Linked DNA regions of Homo sapiens: region 2 is linked to region 1. The links come from fine-mapping of genetic effects on gene expression. Tissue or cell type: testis. Region 1 holds a variant in brackets; the other region holds the start of a gene. All regions are shown on one strand. Distances are from middle to middle.

What was found. PIP is the estimated chance that this variant, and not a neighbour inherited with it, causes the effect.
Region 2: MRPL23 starts here. The variant in region 1 is fine-mapped to the expression of MRPL23 in testis (GTEx, PIP above 0.99).

Annotation. Positions count from the first base shown.
Region 1 is chr11:2,017,843-2,020,519 of GRCh38, reverse strand. No RefSeq gene overlaps it. Among named protein-coding and RNA genes, the nearest start is that of H19, 21 kb to the right of the region's middle. The variant C/T (reference allele first, on the strand shown) is at 1,273.
Region 2 is chr11:1,946,235-1,948,911 of GRCh38, reverse strand. MRPL23 (mitochondrial ribosomal protein L23) reads right to left here and starts at 1,580. Exons shown (of 5, transcript NM_021134.4): 1 at 1,533-1,580. The coding sequence starts at 1,549.

The DNA.
Region 1 (2,677 bases):
CACCATGGTCACTGGAATATGCTCCAAAGCAAAGCATGTGTTTTCTCCCTGAGAGCCCATTGTTAAAGCATCCCAGCACACCCCTGCACTGGCAGTAAATTCCTTTAATTCCTTTTTTTTTTTTTTTTTTTGAGACGGAGTTTTGCTCTTGTTGCCCAGGCTGGAGTGCAGTGGCGCGATCTCCGCTCACTGCAACCTCCGCCTCCCGGGTTCCAGTGGTTCTCTTGCCTCAGCCTCCCGAGCAGCTAGCTCACATTACAGGCAGGCGCCACCACGCCCAGCTAATTTTTGTGCTTTTAGTATAGACGGAGTTTCTCTGTGTTGGTCAGGCTGGTCTCAAACTCCCGACCTCAGGTGATCCACCCACCTTGGCCTCCCAGAATTCTGGGATTACAGGCGTGCGCCACCGCACCTGGCTGTAAATTCCATTTTTACAGGATGACTCGGGATCAGGGCCATTCTATGAAAGGTGATGTCCCTGAAAGACAGAAATGGGCAATTCTTCCCAAGAGTTTTATTAAGGGGAAAATATTCCATTTTGTTTAAACAAGGACAAGAGATCTGACGTGCCAGGGGCCTTCTGCCCCTCCGCGGATGGTTCAGGAGACCAGGCACTCCGTGAAAGTCTCCTACGAGGCCTCCAGCCGCAGGCAGATCCCTACTACCGGTCACTGTCACTGCTCAAGGCGGTGCCCGCTGGCTTCCCTGGGTGGGACTAAGGAAAGCACATTCCACTGGGCAATATCTGAACAAAAGCATCTTCTTAATAGGAAATTCACCTTAAAAGGTGACAGGAGTCCTCCCGGGCCAGCTTCTGCGAGACAGAGCATGTAGAGGGAAGGGAAACACGTCTAATCCCCAAGCCTTCCTGTGGCCCTCAGCCCCGGGGCCTGGCACCCCCACCCTGCTCTGGCTTGGTGGTTTGTAGAGGGGTGGCACAGGGCCACGGCCATCTGCACCTGTGGAGCTGTGAGAGGAAGGGAAGGGGCACAGGCTTGGCCGCAGTCTTCCCCCAGCCCCGTTGTAATCTTTGAAAGGCTCTGTGAGACACCCAAGAGTCAGATGGGGAAACTGAGTCCCAGGGCTCAAGGGCATGCTACGTGGAGGGAAACGGCAAAAGAGCCACCGCCCAGCCTTGCTTATCCTCATAAGGTGGCAACACAAGCCACTGACGTCCCTAACAAAGTGCCACGTGCTGGAAGGTGTGTGTCTATGGGGGTGAGGACATGGGGTCAGAGGGAGCCTGGCCTTTTCTTGGAGTGCCCCTGTTCT[C/T]GCGTCTCCCCCAGCCTCCCCAGGTGCAGCCTCTGCTGGTCCTTCGGAGGGTCGTGCCTGTGGTGTCTGTGGTGTCTGTGGTATGTGGTGTGTGGTGTGTGGTGCCTGCCCCTCTGTCAGGGGTGGGGCCAGATGCTGCGTGTCCGGGACAGGCTCTCCCTCCCCCTGAACATGCCTGGCTGAGGGGCACCGCTGCAAATGTCATTATTACCAGGAGCCGTTTATATGGTGCACTTTGTCCACGCGCAGGGTTTACAGCCCCTTTTATTCCTCATAAAACGGGAAGGGAGCAAAGCCCAAGCGTGTGGGGGCCAGAGCCTGGCTGCACCCGCTGGAGAGCTGCGAGAGGTTGGCGCGATGCAGGCCCCTTTGCCACACCACCCTGGCAGGCCCTGATCCGAGGGGACCTGGGCGAAGGGGATGGACTGTGGCGGGGCCCCTCTGGAGGCCTGGGTGCAGGATGACCAGGGGTCCCAAAGAACCCGCTGTGCTTGGGTTTTCTAAAGCAGAGGTGAGGGGTGGCAGGGTCCCTCTGGGGGTCTCGGTGCAGGATGACCAGGACCCCCAAAGAGCCCGATGTCCTTGGGTTTTCTGGAGCCAAGGTAAGGGGGAGGTGTTGAGGGGCTGGGACAGTGAGTCTGGGCTGTGTCCCTGATGGGTCCCCTCTTCCAAGCCCCCTTCCCAGCACATGAATGTTCCACGCTGCCCAGGCCTGCCATCTCTCGGGTGCCTGCCCCCACGCCGCTGCGCCTCTCCTCCCCCACCTCCCCCTCCTTGCCCATCTCACCTCTCTCAGGTGTGTGACACCAGCCGTCTCTGAGCAGCCCCTCACCCCTTAGGCCTTCTGCACCCCCACTAGCCTGCACTCCAGATCCAAGTAGGGGCCGAATCCACCTCCAAGCCCCTCTCTTCAGCCCTGCTGGGAGCCCCTGATGCTTGGAACAGCCTCAGCTGCCGATTCAGAAATCAGCATCCTGTGCCCCTACTCTGCCTGAGGCGGGTGCAGCCTCCCCTCCCTGAGCCCTGGTCTGCCAGGCGAGGGGTGCTGGAGCAGGCAGGTCTGGGGCCAGGGGCAGCAAAACTGCCAGGGGCTCACCCTCCACCCTCGGAGCTTGGAATGGGAGGGCAGCCCTGGCCCAGACACCCTGGTGAGGACCCTGGCCTTGGCTCACCCTGCGGCTCCTTCACAGAGCTCCCCCGCCCAGGCTCCCCAGAATGGAGTCCAAACTTCTCTCCTATCTGGACTCTCTTGCTTCTTTGGATTCCGGTAGCTGTGAGGGGACTGGAGGTTGGGGGTTCCTGGGCAACCTCTCCTGAAGCACAGGAGGCAGGGGCTTCACCCAGGCGGCTGGCTGAGGTCTAGACACCCCAGGGGCAGCTGTGGCCCCTGGTATGGACTTCGGTT
Region 2 (2,677 bases), 72 kb after region 1:
AGCGCCAGCTGCCTGTGCATGGAGCCTGCAGATCTGGAACAATCTGCACTGTCGACACCCAGGGCCCCAGGACAGGGCTCTAAGGCCTCTCTTTTGTTCTCGAACCCTTGTGGGCCCACCAGCCCTCAGTTCCCTCAGTCCCACTCTCCCCAGGGAGCACCCCAAGCACTCCGCATGGGATTTCACAAGCACCTCCACGGTAACCTATCTCAAGTAGAACTCTGCACTAACTTCTTCCTCAAAACACAAAAACCTGGCTCACTGCCACCAGCCTGCCTCCCCACGGCCCCACGAGTGACTCACCCAGGATCCCACCCTCTCGGCACCCCCACCCCAGCTGCATCCAGTCCACAGCAAGTCCAGTCAGCGCTCCCTGCAAAGGCTCCCTGGCAACAGGAGTGTGTGCACTGCTGGGCGAGCGGGCCCCGCTGCCTCCAAGGCAACCACACCTGATCCGTTTCCAGGGGCCCACCACCCTTGGCCCTTCAGGAACACCCCACCCGGGTCCTCTGACCCTCACTTCCTCCTCATTCTCCAGGGACAGGCGAAGGGCCAGCGTGGAATTCACGTGAGGCTCAGGGCAGTGTTGGCCTCACTCAGACCTTTTCTTCCTTGGTGCTGGGTGTTCCCCAAGGTCAGGGCCACGCGCAGCACCGGTCCCAGGTGTCTGCTGAAGGAAGCCTCCTCCACTGGGGGTCCCACCTGCCACCCTCCCCTCTCTCCCCAGCTATGTGCAGGGGCCTCCAAAGCCACACCCTGGCCCCTTGACCGTCCCTCTCCAGAAACACTGATTACTGTTCTCCAAAACCCACCCGGGAGCCCACATCTACTGATTACGCCTGAGTCATTCGTTCACCAAGAAATATGCAGGGCTTCCTGCTTCAATTTGGGGAGGGCGAAGTGGTGCAGGACAGCGCCCCGATGGCCCCCTGGGAATCCAGAGAACATGCAGAGTGGGCGTGGGGGGTCTGGGCTGAGCAGAACCGGGCCTCCCGCCCTGCCTGCCCCAAAGCCCTGAGGGCTGCGGTCAGCTGCCCTTTCCCACTCAAACCCAATCTGGATTCCCAGCTCCTCTGCCTCAGGCCGCGCCCGCGCTGCGGTGGGGGCCGCCCGGGCCTCCCCGCCTGGACCCAACAGCCGACGTGGCCCCCGCCCCGTGACGATCAGAAACGTCTCCAAACAGCTCCCTCGGCCCTGGCTGCGGGACCAGCCCCGGGCCTGACCCCGGGCCACCCTCCCACTCCCCACGCGGGGGCACCGTGGCCTCCATGGGTTTGGCTCGGACCCTCTGTCCCCAGCCCGGCCACGCCCGCCCCCTGGGGTTGCCCTAAACCTGGCGGGGGGCTCCTCCGCCACCCGCCTCGCGTGTCTCAAGGCATGACAGGGGGTCCCGGAGAACCCTGCCTCGCCCGGGCCAGGAGGCGGCCCAGGGACGCCCACCCCGCTCCCCGGAGTCCGCGCGCCCTGTGGGGTCCGTCTGCTTGTGACACTAAGGGGCGCCCCGCGACGGGGGGGTGACGACCCCTACTCACACCACATTCCGCGCCATGGCGGCCACGCGCGCTTCCGGGGTCCGCGAGGCGGAAGGAGCAGCGCGCCCGCCCCGCACGGCCGCCGCCTGGCACAGCGCCCCCTCGCTTCCGGAGGCCGCGCCGCCCCCCCCGCACGCGCCAGCGCCCGTGCCGCGCGCCCGTGCCGTCCCCAGCCCTGCGCCCGCCCCGCCCCGCGCCGCCTTCTTCTCCCTCCCTGCCCCCCTCCTGTCCCGCACCCCACGTTCCTCCCCGCCCCGACCCCCACTCCCCGCGCCGCAGACTCCACAGGACGCGGGGCCGCAGCAGTCCCGCCCCGCACTCCCGGCCCCACAGCCTGAAGCCCGGGCCCGCGCCCCTGCTGCTCGCGCCCCGCCCACGCCCGCACCCCTCCCAGCCCCAGAGACCTCCCGCCGCCGTCGCACTCTTTCGGGCCTGTCTGCCCTGCCTCCCGGGACCCCGGCCTGCACGCCCCCCACACCCGTGCCCCTGCCCTTTGGCAGCTCCAGGCCACAGCCTGGCCCCGCACCGCTGCGCTTGCAGCTGCTGGGAGCTGGAAGTGGAGAACCGGGGCTGTAGTGCTGGGGAGGGCGGGTCCCCGGGCCTGGGGTCTGAAGCCCCTCTCTCCATCTGGCTGTTTTTACCCGGGAGCCCGGAACCCCAGGGCCCCTCACCTCGCCCTTCTGGCCAGCCCGGTTGGCAGCCCCCACGCTGGCCACACCAGCCACGCTGTCCATCCTCGGTGCTCCCACCACGCCTCCTCCAAGAGGGCCACTGGCCTCTTCAGGCCTTGCCGTTTGCTCACCCCCTCTCCACCCTTCTGGCCAGCCCCCTCCAGCCTCTGGCAAGGCCCTCTCTACAGGGACCCCCGTCCAAGGCCCAGTCCTCACTCCTTTCCTTGGGTAGTGCTGGCCAGGAGGGCTGCTGGGACCCTTCGGGAGTAGAGGGCAGCAGCCTCCCTCCCCTGTCCCCAGGCCTCTCCCTCCTCCCCTGGTTTCCTCTGCCTGGTGGCTGGATTCAGGCCACTTCTCCATCTATCTCTTTAACTGCCCGTGCCCCCCACCCCCAAGCCTGGCTTGTTCCCGCACCCAACAGCACCCTAAGTGTTCTTCAGAGCAAGAGGCAGGGGTGTCATGCTTCAGAGCAAG